Regions from separate parts of the Homo sapiens genome. Here all the other regions are linked to region 2. Evidence: fine-mapped expression QTL. A gene starts in region 2. Each other region holds a variant in brackets. All regions are shown on one strand. Distances are between the middles of the regions. Region 1 has its middle 42 kb from the start of S1PR1. Region 2 holds the start of S1PR1 (sphingosine-1-phosphate receptor 1). Region 3 overlaps LOC101928334 (a long non-coding RNA gene).

Evidence for each region.
Region 1: its variant is fine-mapped to the expression of S1PR1 in whole blood (TOPMed, PIP above 0.99). The same link has a PIP of 0.9 or more in blood mononuclear cells.
Region 3: its variant is fine-mapped to the expression of S1PR1 in fibroblasts (GTEx, PIP 0.91).

Annotation. Positions count from the first base shown.
Region 1 is chr1:101,276,484-101,281,733 of GRCh38, reverse strand. No RefSeq gene overlaps it. Among named protein-coding and RNA genes, the nearest start is that of S1PR1, 42 kb to the right of the region's middle. The variant G/T (reference allele first, on the strand shown) is at 2,657.
Region 2 is chr1:101,234,856-101,240,008 of GRCh38, reverse strand. It overlaps S1PR1 (sphingosine-1-phosphate receptor 1), which reads right to left and starts at 2,990. Exons shown (of 2, transcript NM_001400.5): 1 at 2,910-2,990; 2 at 1-1,187. The coding sequence starts at 1,024. S1PR1-DT (S1PR1 divergent transcript) reads left to right here and starts at 3,481. Exons shown (of 2, transcript NR_104626.1): 1 at 3,481-3,684; 2 at 4,128-5,136. RefSeq lists enhancers at 1,128-1,177, 3,811-3,900.
Region 3 is chr1:101,175,494-101,180,743 of GRCh38, reverse strand. It overlaps LOC101928334 (a long non-coding RNA gene), which reads right to left. Exons shown (of 4, transcript XR_426738.4): 4 at 4,189-5,216. Among named protein-coding and RNA genes, the nearest start is that of S1PR1-DT, 58 kb to the left of the region's middle. The variant T/C (reference allele first, on the strand shown) is at 3,132.

The sequences.
Region 1 (5,250 bases), 42 kb before region 2:
CTGTCTGCAGCCGAGTTGTAAAATCTACTTTTCTTACCCCATCTTCCTCTCACAGACACTTCTTCCTACCTCCATCCTCAGCCTCACATTCTGGGGCCCAGCTTTGAGTCATCTTGACTAAGGATCCATCCTCAGCCTTGGGTCTTGGTCTGGTAACAGGGCTCTGCCTTGGTGCCTGTTTTGGTCCTGTTCATGCTGTTATAGGTATTGTCCCAATACTCCAGGTCCCTCTGCTAGAACACCTGGGCTGCTCTTGCCAATCCCCTCCCAAAGAGATTCCTAAGCTGTCAGGCCTATGGCTATTGCCCTGGTGCCTACTTGCAGACAACTGTGCTTTGAGAACATACCAGAAGCCCACTGCCAGCTTGTATGGATCTCTTTACAATTTGCCTGCTGGATTCTGATGCAATATGCTGTCCCCTCAGGCCCCAAACTTTGCAGTCAGATGGAAACTTTCCCAGAGCCTGAGGAGTCCAGGGGTCCCCCATCCCTCAGTGCCTGCCTTAGCCCTAGTGTCAAATTCAGTTCTATAGCCAAGCTTTTTGCTACATGTACCTGAGACAAGAAAACAAGACAAGCGGAATGTATTTTATGTCTATATAGCAGTTTATAATTTACAAAATTCTTTCACATTATCTCATTTGACCCTCACACCAAACTCACGATACAAAAAATAAGAAATTTCCGTATTTTATAGATAAGTGCAAGTGACTAACTGGGGCGATCAACTGTCCCAGTTTGTCCAGGATTGAGGGAGTTCCCAGACTGCAGGACTTTCAGTGCTAAAACCAGGACAGTCCTGGGCAAACTGGGATGGTCAGTCACCCTAGGTCACATAGCTAGTAAATGACTGAGCTAGGATTTGAACCTAAGGCACCTAGCCTGTACTTATTACACTTATTGAGTTATTGAACTCAATAGTTATTATTGCTAATATTATTTAACAGTTATTGAGTTATTGAGCTCAATAACTGTTAAATGAATGACAGACACCTAGTCTGTCTCCTTTCCACTGTGCCATGTGCTTCTCCTAAACAGCAGTCTCTTCAGACTAATACATAAAGGTGTTGCTTGCCTTCTTTCTTCTTGAAATGCCAATCAGTGGAAAGGAGAAGGGAAACACTGCTTTGCAAGAGAAAAGCATCCTTGCATTAACTCCATGTCAGAATAATCACTGACAGTAATAATTTCAACAAAGGGATTAATTACAGAGTCTGTAATTATCTTAGCAAGAGCTTGAAATCAAAAATGATTGTGATGGGCCACTAACCCAATCAATATATGCACTCTGCCCTGGGATAATCTAAGACTGACTGCATATATGAATATTCAGTACATGTAAATTTTAAATCCTACCATCAGATAAAAACAAAGAGTTGTAAGAGATTTAGTGGTCAGTATACGTCCTTCCATTCAACCTTGACTTCACTGAAACCATCTCAGAAAAGATAACAATTGGTGCTCCTTTTAAAGATGTCCCTCTGAGGCAAGCCCAAGAGCTTCTTCAGGTGCCACTTTCAGCCACCACTGAATGATGAGTACAGCTTAACCTAAGCTTAACCTTTACTTAGCTTAAGCTAGTAAAAGGAGTTCTGGATATCAGAGCTTGTTTACTTTCCCTCTACCAGACTCTCTGTGCAGGACACAACCTCCAGTTTCCTATCCCCTCAAACCCCTGCCAACTCAAGCTCTCCTCTGTCACCCAGGATGCCACTATCCCCCAAGACTATGTCTAGCCTTTCTTTTGACATATTTCCTTAGTTAACTTATATAATCTTCTGGGATAATTTTTTTAAGAGATAGAGTCTTCTCTGTTGCACAGGCTAGAGTGCAGTAGCACAATCATAGTTCATTGCAGCCTCAAACTCTTGGGCTCAAATAATCCTTCCTCTTTCAGCCCCCCGAGTATCTGGGATTACAGGTGCATGCCACCAAGCCCAGCTAATTGTTTTATAGTTTGTAAAGACAAGGTCTAGCTGTTGCCCAAGCTGGTCTGGAAGTCCTGGCCTCAAGCAATCCTCCCACCACAGCTTCCTAAAGCACTGGGATTACAGGTGTGAGCCAACACACCCACATCTTTCGGGATAGTTAATTCCAGAGATTTGTATGCACCCAACATTTAACTTTTTTTTCTTTCTGGATATCCATCATTCATTCAGCAAACATTTAGGAAATGACTATAATGTGTCAGGCACTGTGCTAGGTACTGAGGCTAGTCGCAGAAAAGTTACAGGAGTTCCTAAGGCAGTTAAGGGAATACAGAATAGAAAAGTCATTCCTGGAAAAGAGGACAGCATCACATATACAAGACAATATGCTCAGACAACTACAAAATAAGTTCAAAAAAGCAGGAGGCAGGAAGTCTTTAGGAGTTGGCACCCATGGCCAACTGGATAATTCGGTACTTTTCCAGGAAGTCTTCTCTGGCTAATCTCGAGAGAACCAATAGCTTCTGCCCCTCACCTTGAATAAACATAAGGCATTCAAGACCTCCTGAGGCCATCCTCTCTTATTTTCCAGTTTCCAATTGTTTTCCACTGTGAAAATATCTTAGCTCCTATTTGCATTTTCTTTTCCATCACTCTCTGTATATACCCTATATACTAATCGACATCAATGTTTTCTGCCAGCAACCACTGGGAAGGGTGGAGTAGCC[G/T]TCGCTTCCTGAGACCCAGGAAGAAGAGAAAACCATGAGGTTATCATCTCTGTGCTATGATTAAGCTACTGTGTGTTTCCTTCAAAGTCTGGTTAACCTAACTTAACACAACCTCAAATACCTGTCTCTGTGAAGCATGCTCTATCAACTGAAGGAACAGAATCCCTTACACTCCCAAAGATGCTTTCCAATGGCAGAAAGGGAGCTAAGCAGAGGACTGGCTTAATTCAGGCTGTATTAAAAGCAATACCAAGAAAGGGAAGGGAACTGAAAGAAGGCTAGGAAAAACAAGGGAGGAGGAGAAAGTGGCTCTCTAGAAAATGTTCCTGGTTTTCAACACTATTACGGGCATGACAATCATGTGCCTGCTCCACACACAGGCTTAGCTAGAAGTTATTCCCCAAATCCTACCTGCCAAGCCTAAGCTGATTGGAAAAGTGATAGGATCTGATCCAAGCTCTGTCACCCCACGGGCTGGACAATGGCCTGTGAAGCAGCCTCAGCATGATGATACTGATGGCTGTAATAATAGCAGCTATGATGCATTAGGGGTTACGATGTGCATGGTAGATAATTTATCTCATTTAATCCTCGCAACAACTCTATGGGGTACATACTATTATTATCTCCCTTTCACAGATGACAATACATGTTTCAAGAGGTTTCACAAGTCTGCCAATCTTAGAGGATTGAGTCAAACTCTGGTCTGTCTGATTTCAGAACCAAACCCTTCCTCACCTTTCAGTATTGCCTTTCATTCATGTATTTATTTATTTTAAAAAAATTTCTTCTGTACCCGCTATTAACCAAGCCCTGTGGCAAGTGCTGGGGATACAATGGAGGCCAAGACTTAAAAAGACCCTGCCCCCTGGGGCTTATACTGCACAGAGGAGATAGATACACAGTAAGCAAATAACACAAATAAGTACAGGCTGCATTCAGTAGTATGAAGAAGACGAAGAGTTTGTTATGATAGGTATAGGGGAGGCCGGGTGTGGTGGCTCATGCCTGTAATCCCAACACTTTGGGAGGCTGAGGTGGGCAGGTCACTTGAGTTCAAGAGTTTGAGACCAGCCTAAGCAACATAGCGAAACCCTGTCTCTACAAAAAATAAAAAAATAGCTGGGCGTGGCGTTGCATGCCTGTCATCCCTGCTACTCAGGCGGCTAAGGCTCAAGGATCACTTAAGCCCAGGAGGTGGAGGTTGCAGTGAGCCGAGATCGTGCCACTGCACTCCAGCCTGGGTGACAGAGCAAGACTCCGTCTCAAAAGAAAAAGAAAAAAAGAGAAAGAAAGGAGAGGTGTAAGGAGACTTACTTAGATAGGTGGTTAGGGAAGCCCCCTCAAGGAAGGGACATTACACTGAGATCTGAAGGATGTGACAGAGCCAGTTATAAGGTGACCTGAGAAAAAGGCAAGGGAACAAGATGCAGAACAGGCAAATCAAAGAAGAGACAGAGGTCAGTGAGGCTGGGTGTCTAGAGAGCTTGGCAGAGGCTGGATGTCACGGGGCCTTAAAGTCCACCAGAGGAGTTAGAACTGGCTTCCAAGTGCAATGGCAAGCTACGGGATAGAGTAAAGCAGTGGAGAGTGGAGATGGCTGGTTTACTTTTTATTAAAAAGAGAAGGGGCATAATGCAGTAGTTAAGAAGATAGACTCTGGACCGATAATGCCTGCACTCAAATCCCTGACTTGCTGCTTACCAACTCTGTAACTGTGACAACCTCTTCTGTGCCTCAGTTTCCTTATCTTGGAAATACAGACACTAACCAAACCTGCCTCAGAGGGCTGTTGGAATGATTAAATTAATTGCTATTTGAAACCACGTAGAATACTGCTTGGTATCTAGTAATAAACATGCTTACAAAATACATTAATAAACATAATTAATAGATGTCTTTACAAACATAACAACATAAATTTGTTTTGCAGACGTACAGAAATGTAATATCAAAAGCATGCTTTTCTTTCAGTGAAGCCTTTCTGCATTGTTCTTTCTCTTTCTTCCTCTTTCTCCCGCTCCACTACATCAGCAACTGCTCCTCCTTAAGGTAATTTATGTCAGGAACGCCATATGTTTCCGACCACAGAATTCTAAATAGGCAGACATAAGATTTATGTGCATACACATATGTGGCATTCTTTTATCTTTGTTTTGCAAAAGTTAAATTATTATGTACAATTGACCCTTGAACAACTCAGGATCTAGGGACGCCGACCCTCTGCACAGTCAAAAATCCATGTATATCACCACCACTAGAAAAAAGAAAAAGATATTTTGTATGTTATATGGATTATATATGTATTCTTACAATAAAGAAATAAAGAAAAGAAAATGTTATTAAGAAAGTCATAATGAAGATAAATATATTTACTATTCTATTCATTAAGTAGAAGTCAACCATCATAAAGGTCTTCATCCCTCATTGTCTTCATAAGTAGGCTGAGGAGGAGACGAAGATGAGGGGTTGGCCTTGCTGTCTCAGAGGTAGCAGAGGTGGAGAAGGTGGAGGAGGTGGAAGGGGAGGCAGGAGAGGAAGGCACTTCCTTGGTGTAACTTCTATTGAAAAAAATAAAACATGTAAGTGGACCC
Region 2 (5,153 bases):
GCTTGAATTTGCCAGCAGAGTCTCCGCTCGGGCACTTGCAGCAGGACATGATCCGGATGAAGGCCCGACGCATCTCCTTGTTGGTCAGAGTGTAAATGATGGGGTTGGTGCCGGAGTTGAGCACAGCTAACACCAGGAAGTACTCCGCTCTGAAGAGGATGTCACAGGTCTTCACCTTGCAGCCCACATCCAGCAGGAGCAGGATGAAGAGCGGTGCCCAGCAGGCGATGAAGACGCTCAGGACGATAATTACGGTCTTGAGCAGCGCCAGCGACTTCTCAGAGCTGCGGCTGGCCTTGGAAATGTTCTTGCGGAACGTCAGGCGGCGGCTCCGAGTCCTGACCAAGGAGTAGATTCTGCAGTACAGAATGACGATGGAGAGCAGAAGCAGAGTGAAGACCGTGGTGCAGAAGAGGATATAGTGCTTGTGGTAGAGCGGCAGCACGGTGGAGCAGCTGGACAGCGCACTGATGCAGTTCCAGCCCATGATAGGCAGGCCACCCAGGATGAGGGAGATGACCCAGCAGGCGCTGATTAGCAGGAAGAGGCGGAAGTTATTGCTCCCGTTGTGGAGTTTCATTTTCAGCATTGTGATATAGCGCTCAATGGCGATGGCGAGGAGACTGAACACGGAGGCTGACAGGGCCACAAACATACTCCCTTCCCGCAGAAACCACTGGGCGGGAGTGAGCTTGTAGGTGGTGGCCCCAGACAAGAGCAGGTTAGCTGTGTAGGCTACTCCTGCCAACAGGTCTGAGAGGGCCAGATTGCCAATAAAATAGTACATGGGTCGGTGGAATTTCTTGGTTTTCCAAATGGTCAGCAAGACAAAGATGTTCTCCAGGATGATAAAGCAGCAGATGAGAATGAACACCACCGAGGTCAGTTTAATGCTGTTCTCCTTGTCCGCGCTGATATTCAGCTTTCCCGTGTAGTTGTAATGCCGGACGATGATATCATAGTTGACGTAGTCAGAGACCGAGCTGCGGTGGGCCTTGACCAGCGGGACGCTGGTGGGCCCCATGGTGCCAACCCTGTGTCCCCAGGAAGCCGGGGTGGCGCTACTCCAGACGAACGCTAGAGGGCGAGGCGAGAGAGCCTTCACTGGCTTCAGGGGTGGTTCGATGAGTGATCCAGGCTTTTTGTGTAGCTTTTCCTTGGCTGGAGAGGGCCTCGGAAACCGCAGCCTTAAACAAGTCAGAGGAGAGAGTCAGGGAAAGAGCCACAGCATACTGGCATAATTCATTCTAGCTAAGGCACTGCTCCAATTGTGTTGTTGTTGATTTGTTTTAAAGAAACTTGGGGAGAGCTCAGGGAGAGAGATTTTTTTTAAAAATCAAATTATCTTTTTTCTTCCTTTTTTTTCTTTTTTCAAAAAAGGAAGAGGGGGAAGAAAAAGAGAGGGAGAAACTCTATGGCCACATTCACTCAAAGGGAAATGGGAATTACGATGTTGGCTGTGGGTTGACAAAAAAAAAAAGATGATGAAAAGGAAAACAAGGAGTGGGAGGAATGGGAAACCTAGAGAACTACACCCCATTTTAACTCCACTCCTGCCCTCTCACCACCCCACACCCCCTCACCCCCGGATTTCCAGCCATGAGATTCTCTGAAGCAGTCACCAGCTTAGCTGCACGCTCAATACCAGCCCACGTCTCTCCTCGGAAAAGACTCAACTGCCAGTCTGAGGGCGAAGACACACACCTCTGTCCCCCATGCCCACCCCCAGCCCCCCAGTTCAAAGATACTAGCACCACCTCCTAATTGCCATGTGCCATGCAAGAAATCAGATTTGCAGGAAAATCATTTGAAAGCGTAAGCCATTTGGGGGCTCTATTAATAACTCTCTAGGAGCAGGTGTGCTTAGGGTCCGAGGGCGCAGTGAGGTGTGGGCAGCCAGGCCCGCCCCGCCTTGCTGTAAACAGGAAAGCTTAGCGCCTCCGTGAAGCGACTGCCTTTTCTTTCTTCTTCTTATTCTCCCCGCCTCCCCCCGCGCCCCCCCACCCCACCCCCCACCCCAAGCCAGGGCAAGTAAATTTAAAGGTATTCAGTTAAAACCATTCATAACAGATTGCAGCAAATCCCAGAAGTTTCGTACATTAGTTGATTGCATAAATATTTTTTGCTTTGTTTAGTTTAGCCAAAACATACACAAAAGAGAGAAATCAAACTACTCATGACAGCCATAATACATGCTACCACATTTCTAATTTCGATTGCAAAACTACTCTTCAGAAACTCACATTAAACTGCTCCCTGGTGCATTGCTAAATTTGCGTGGGCAGTTTTATTTACTGCAGTCCCCCAACACGTTGACTCCTCTCCTAGGACTAGAAAGTTACAAAGAAACTTTCTAAGACGGCACTGGTCAGCAGAAGTCTACTTCTAAGTTGCTTAAATATTTCAAGGTAATGCAGCAATGCAATAAAATGAGGTAATAGAGATGAGAACAATCCCAGCAACTCCGCGAACAGCAGAGGCTGCTCAAGCCAAGAAGCTCCGCATTTTCCCCCAACTAATTTTATACCCTGCTCCTGGGCAGTACTAATTTAAGCCATTACCCACGCTCCACACCACCCACCATATTCTTTGTCTATAGGATTTCCAAAATTTAACGCCTTCCCTCCTATTCCTCCGACCAACTGCAATTTTCACTGCCCCTACACCCGTAGGTTCCACAGTTGGGAATTAACCTTTTTTCTGAACTCCATAAATCACAAGTGCCCAAGAACAATCTGATCGAGATGGGCTCCTTAGTAGCCCAGAGATGCAAATTTTCAGCGCCCGGAGATGCATGTTTTCTAAGTTTTTGTTTGCCTCGTTCGACTTAAAAATTCGTTTCTGACACCTAAGCCCTACCACAACCGGGCTCCCCGCGCCCGCGACCCCCGCCATTCGCCGCCCCCTACCTCGCTCAAGCAGGGCGAAGTTGCGTTCGGAGAGCCCGGGATCTGTACGGCTCGCTTCGCATCTTGCTGCTGCCCCCGACTGACTGCGTAGTGCTCTCGCAAACTTACTCGAGTCGGGGTCCCCTCCCTCCGCAGCGGAGCACTCCAATGGCCAGTCCCGCTCGCCGCGGCCAGTTCCCTGCCTGCTACGCGAAGTCACCCAGCGCCGCGCCAAGGCTGGGTGGTTTCTTCAGGAAGAGGCTGGGAGGGGTTAATGCCTTAACCCCCCACGCCCTCTGTCAGCTGGGGGCCCCCGGATCTGAACTGCTGAGACGCACTGTCCAGGAAAGATCTGGGGCAGAAGCAAAAAAAAAAAAAAAAAAAAAAAAAAGAACCCCTCCTCCCCAAACAACAAATGAAAGAAAAAAAGAGAGAGAGAGAAGGGGCGGAGCCCGGTAACCCCTGGATTCTACTGTATAAATCACTGCCCTCGCCCAGATAGACGCTGATCCCTGGCTGTGGAGAGGATTCTCCCGAGCCCCTGAAAAAAAAAAAAGGTGGAGAGACTTTGAAAACTTTTCTCTCGAAAAGTCTGAGGAGGCAGAGGACGGCCCGGAGTCTCGTAGCGCACCGCCCTGGTCCCACACCCCCCGCAGCCCTAGGAGGATCGGTGTGCTGAGCTTGTGGCCAGGAGCTCCCCGAGCCACTTTCGCGCGAGCAGCAGAAAACCTGAGCCGCGGCCCGGCGAGTGTCGGCGGCGCTCTGGGGAGGAGAGGCTGGGAAGGGGCTGCGAGAGGTACGGAGGAGACAAGCAGCCCGGGAGGGAGAATGAACCGGGAGGTTCCTGTACTCCCCCCGCCACCCCAGATCCTCGTGCTACTCGCAACTGCGGTCTGAGGGGCAGTGGCTTTCCCAGAGTGCACAGAGAAATGAACCAGCGCCGGTTTTGGTGTTGGGCGAGGGGTTTCCCTCAGCTGAGCACAAAGTCAGGCTGTGTGTCCCAGATTCTGGCCAATGGAGAGGTCGTTGAGGGGGTGGGCTGCTGCTGAGTCCTGAGAGATTCAAAACGCCTGGGCAGCTCAGGAATTTCCAAAGGGGGAGATTCTCGGCCAGGAGCTGCGGAGCAACTGCAGCTGCCCAGCAGGAGCCGGCACCCTTCTCTCACATTCTGCTTGGGAGTCGACTCAGAGGCCTCAAATCTCATTACTAGCACTTTGCCCACCCTTTTCTTTTGCTTAGATGCTACTTAAGAACGTGAGGCTGAGAGGCGGACTTGGTCAGATCTGCCTGCGTGACAAGCTCAGGACAGGACGCTTCTGCCCTTGCATTACTGTTGTAAAAGTTTCCACCCAGTCCCTGGTCGCACTGCGTTCCCATCCCGGCAGATGTGAACTCAAAAACTTCCTCCGCTGTGCAGTTTCAATTGGCAGACACACCCTGTACCTGAATGACTCAGAAGGAGGCAGAATGAACAAACAACAGACCCCTGACTTCTGGGATTTTGTGAGTTTGCCAAAAAAAAAAAAAAAAGAAGTGACAGTTAATTCACAGCTGTTTTAAAGCATTCATCGACAGCGACGCACCCAATACATACCCACAGCTTCAACAACAGTACAGTGCATATAATGTGGAAACCAAGATAACGGTCCTCTAAGACTCCAGAGTAGATCCTAATTGGATTTGAAGACTTATTTCACTTAAAGGGGAAGAGGTATATTGTGTCTACCCAGCACAACAAAACGGGGGACTTGGCATTCCCCCCCTTCTCCCGCCTCCACCCACACTAATTTATGCATTCTTTAAAGCCAAAGGAATCAAAGTGAAATTTCACACCTAGTCTGTATCAAGCATGTGCTAGGTTAATTTAACCTTACTGCTCTGTGAAGTAAGTAAGCATTGCTGGCCATTTTATTGTTGAGAGAAGTGTCATTCAGACAACTAAGGTGACTTGTAGATTTCCCAGCTAGTGAGTGGCAGAGCTGGGTTCCAAAACCTAAATATTGCAAATGCCTTGCCTTGTGGCTCAAACGCTATCAGTCAATAAATAGTTAAGGAATTGAAATATATGTTCCTAGAGGGAAACAGACTTCTAGATTTAAAGTTTTACATTTGCTGCATTTCTGACTGTACAAGTCTACAAAATGCATATAAAAGTATGCTAATGAATGTCCTTTTAAAACCACTCATTTTCTACGTAAGCATACAAAGTGTATACATATGCATATTAATGAATGTTTTCTGAAACTTCTCATTGTCTGCCTATGA
Region 3 (5,250 bases), 59 kb after region 2:
TACCACAAGGCCTGGCTAATTTTTTGTAGTTTTAGTAGAGACAGGGCATCACCATATTGGCCAGGCTGGTTTCGAACTCCTTGCCTCAAGAGATTCACCCACCTTGGCCTCCCAAAGTGTTGGGATTACAGGCGTGAGCCACCGCACCCAGCCTGATCTTCTAATGATTTCTTTATATACTTATTTATTTTATTTGTTATATATTTTTTTGAGACAGGGTCTCGCTCTGTCACTGAGGCTGGAGGGCAGTGATGTGATCATGGCTCACTGCAGTCTCGACCTTCTGGGTTCAAGCAATCCTCCTGCCCTAGCCTCCCAAGTAGCAGGACAACAGGTGTGAACCACTACGCCTGGCTAGTTTTTTAATTTTTTTGTAGAGGCAGGGTCTCACTTTGTTGCCCAGGCTAGTTTCAAACTCCTGGGCTCAAGTGATCCTCCCAAAGTGCTGGGATTACAGGTGTGAGCCACTGCACTTGGCTTTCTAATGTTTTAAATAAGGTCTGCTTCTGAACTCTCCACTCATACCACCTAGAAGTGTACAACTTGGCAATACTGATCTACGTGTAACTTACAAATAGTGGGGTGATGCTTTCGCCTATGTATGAAATGCCTTTTCCTACATTAGGAAATTTCTACTTCAGTATGAACTGGCTAATTGGCTCAAAAGTCACCTCCTGAACAAAACCTTCTCTTACTTCTTCCATGCTACTCCTGAATTCCCATTTTTACTATGACACCATTTACATGCCCAGGCTGTTGTTCTAACCCCGTTGCATTATATTTCCCCATTAGACTGTAAGCTTCTTGAGCAGTTTTTCACCTTTTGTATCTTGCACATTTGGCCACTCGATAAATGTTTGTTGAGTTGATTTGAATTAGAAGAAAATCACCAGATCTCTTCAGAAAGACACAAATAATGACTGGTTTAGGTAATCTAATGGTCTCAAAGAACACAGTACAAAATTGAATAAGTTGGAAGCCAAATATTTATTATTTGCTACTCTTTCATTTTTAATTGAAATATAACACTCACACAGAAAAGTGCCCCAAATTAGTGTATTACTCAATGAATCATCCCAAAATGCATAATTGATCATTAACAAAGTCAAGAAATAGAACATTGTCAGAAGCTCCTCCCATGTACATTTAAGCATCAATTTTTGTAGAGTATTTTCCTTTACACCAGAGACCTTATCTGAGCCTTTCAAAGTTATTCATTTCAAAGTATTCATTTCAAAGAAATGAATACTTGTCCACCCGGCTTTCATTATGGTCTATCGTGGTAGTTGATTGCCAGCCACTGTCACTGACGTGTATTTTCAAATCTTGTCATCTTTGTGAAGAAATATAGACATTTGGCACTCCACTTCTATGTCTTTATGACTCTTGTTTCCACGGGGCCCTACTTCTTCCTTTGTCTCCTTTTATTGTGTGTTCTTTAACCCCACACTCTTCCTCAATGAAACACTTTACCCACTTCCTGTCAACCATCTGACCTCGCTTCTCCTTATAACTCCTCCACTATTGAAAGCTTTTGAAAAACTCCAAAAGGAATTGAATTTTTGATGAGGACTTAAAATAAGATACAAATGTGATTTCTTCATTTGTTCAGACTGCAAAAGTTAAGGGAAATTAAAATATGAAGACGGGTCTATAACAGAGTAGAAAAGATGACAAATTTAGAGAAAATGATTTACTTTTCTGCGTGACAGGCAGAAGAATATAAAGAAACTGAAACCACTGGCAACCTCAAAAGGGTTAATTTTAAGAGTTGTACTCAGGAGACTTATGTCACAGTGATGGAAACAATGCTGCTACAGAAAGCTTCAAAGGTGCAAGTAACTGAAAATGCTATTTATTAGTCAGTTTAGAAGGAAGAAAATTAATAATCACAAGAACTGACTACTTCTCTGGAAATGTCTCATTTCTTTCTATGTCACTGTAAGTTAGCTTTCTCTTTTTTATTATTCTTAACGGTTCTTTCCATTTCTTGTCAGTGTCATGTCATTTGAAGAACTGATATTTGCTGAGATTTGTGAGTATAAGCCATTGCATGCAGGGAGTAAAAGTCTTCTCTTAAATCTTAATGAGGGCTGGGCACAGTGATTCATACATATAATACCAGCACTTTGGAGGCCAAGTGCTCCCAAAGCACTTGGCAGGAGGATCACTAGAGTCCAGGAGTTTGAGGCCGGCCTGGGCAACATAGGGAGAGCCTGTCTGTACCAAAATAATAAAAAACATTAGCTGGGTGTGGTGATGCACCTGTGGTCCTAGCTACTCAGGAGGCTGAGGAGCTACTCAGGAGGCTGAGACAGGTGATGCACCTGTGGTCCTAGCTACTCAGGGAGGATCACTTGACCCCAAGAGGTCAAGGCTGCAGTGAGCCTTGAAAAGATTAGGATCTTTCCATGGCACTCCAGCCTAGGGGAACAGAGTGAGGCCATCTAAAAAAAAAAAAATCCAAAAAAAAAAACCTTAGGCCAGGAGTGGTGGCTCACGCCTGTAATCCCAGCACTTTGGGAGGCCGAGGCAGGAGGATCACGAGGTCAGGAGATCGAGGCCATCCTGGCCAACGTGGTGAAACCCCATCTGTACTAAAACTACAAAAAATTAGCTGGGCATGGTGGCACATGCCTGTAGTCCCAGCCACTCGGGAGGCTGAAGCAGGAGAATCACTTGAACCCGAGAAGCGGAGGTTGCAGTGAGCTGAGATCGCACCACTGCATTCCAGCCTGGCGACAGAGGGAGACTCCGTCACAAACAAACAAACAAATCTTAATGAGATGCCTCTAATTATATTTTGAACTTAAAAAAATGTCCTGGTATATACGCTTCAGCTATTATATATAATGGCAATGCCCAACCTTTTTGGCACCAGGGACTGGTTTTGTAGAAGACAATTTTTCCACAGAGTGGGTTGGGGGAATGGTTTCAGGATGAAACCGTTCCACCTCAGATGATCAGGCATTAGATTCTCATAAGGAGAGCACAAACTAGATCTCTCGCATGCGCAGTTCACAATAGAGTTCCTGCTGCTATGAAAATCTAATGTCGCCCCTGATCTGACAGGAGGCAGAGCTCAGGCAATAATGCTGTCTCTCCCACCACTCACCTCCCACTGTGCTGCA[T/C]GGTTCCTAACAGGCACTGACTGGTACCCATCTGTGGCCTGGGGGTTGGAGACCCCTGCTCGAGACTGTATTAATAAAAAGCCATTAAAAACCACATGACAAAAAGAGGAGATCTTTTCAGAAAGATTAAATTTTCCCATTTCTGTTTTAATATTTAGGGGAAAGATTTAAATCAGAAAGATCTTATGCACAAATAACCAGTAATGTTATTAAGACTAAGCTACATCATAAAAAAGTCCATAATACTATGCAGCCATAAAAAGCAACAAGATCATGTTGTTTGCAGGGACATGGATGGAGCTGGAAGCTGTTATTCTCAGCAAACTAATGCAGGAACAGAAAACCAAACATCGCATGTTCTCACTTATAAGTGGGAGCTGAAGGATGGGAACACATGGATATATGGTGCGGGGGAACAATACACGCAGGGGCCTGTGTTGGGGTAAAGGTTGGGGGAGAGCATCAGGGAAGAATAGCTAATGGGTGACAGACTTAATACCTAGGGGATGGGTTGATCTGTGCAGCCAACAAACATGACACACATTTACCTATGTAACAAACCTGCATATCCTGCATATGTACCCTGGGACATAAAATAAAAGTTGATGGAAAAAAAAATAAAAGAAATTCTATAATGTTTCTATGGTGTATGGTTAAGGAAGGCAAGTAAGACTCAAATTACAAGAATTAAATGGAAAGAATACAACATAAACACCCTTTTATCAAGTGAGCATCTACATATTATTTGTCTAGAACTATGGTATGAGCTTTAAGGCTGGACGTGGTGGCTCACGCCTGTAATCCCAGCACTTTGGGAGGCCAAGGCAGGCAGATCACCTGAGGTCAGGAGTTCAGGACCAGCCTGGCCAACATGGTGAAAACCCATCTCTACCAAAATACAAAAATTAGCCGGGTGTGGTGTCACATGCCTGTCGTCCCTGCTACTCAGGAGGCAGAGGCAGGAGAATCACTTGAACCCAGGAGGTGGAGGCTGCAGTAAGCCAAGAACGTGCCACTGCACTCCAGCCTGGGTGACAGAGCAAGACTCTCTCCCCCCCAAAAAAAAAAAAAAAAAAGAACTATGGTACTTTAGGAATACAAAAGAACCGTAATAAATGTTTCCTGTCCTGAGAAACAAACACTGATGTAAAAGATGTGTCTTCCCAAGTAACTATAGATAATAAAATCTTTAATTACATAGTACAGGCAATAAATGCAAGTCTGGAACACTATATATGTTAAATAGTCAGGTTATTTATTTTTGAAAATAATTTTGAAAATTGAACTGGGAATTCCTTTTCTCAAATGCTTACAGAATTATCCTCCCAGCAAGAGAACTTTTATAAAATAAAACTGCTATTACTATAAAATTCCATAGAAATTAAGCTAAAGAAACAACAAACAAAACTGAAATACAAAGTTCTACACTGAATTCTGATTAAAAAAAAAAAAACACAATAAATGAGCAAGCTCTGTTTCATGGTATGACTAAAATGGAATAGCATTAGGAAAACTGCCTCAGGAAGTCAGAACACAATATAAATCAGTAAGACTTTCCATACCTTTCTAGTTGCAGGAAATCTTAAAATATTACTCCATTCTGCCTGTGTGCAGCAAAGACAAGTTTCTAAAGCATTCAAAATATTTTATAAGGTATACGTTATGTGCTTTATTAAAGTAATAACTTGTGTGTTAACCTTATTTTTAAATGTCATTTTCAAAGAAAGAAGTCTTATCAAAATTGAATGAAAGAAGAAAACTACAAGAAAATGACCTAAAGGAAAGGGAATAAAAGAAAACAAGATCTTTTCTGGACGTTCAGTATTAAAAGTTTTCATGCTCATTGAAATGAAAATTACAAAATCAGAACTACATAGTAGATTTTGCAAGCATGCAGCCGGAAGTGTAAGGGCTGGTGGACTTTAGGGGCCTATGACTAGGAGACAGACTGGAAAACCAGAGACAGTACTGTGAACATAAGCTACCTTTGCCAAATAAATTCTGGAACTTACTTCTTGAACTGAGAAGTTCAGAGATGTTTTGGGACAGGACGCCAGACAGTTTGGAATGACTTACTTGATCTTACTGAAAAAAAAATACAATGTCTTTGATTACTCTT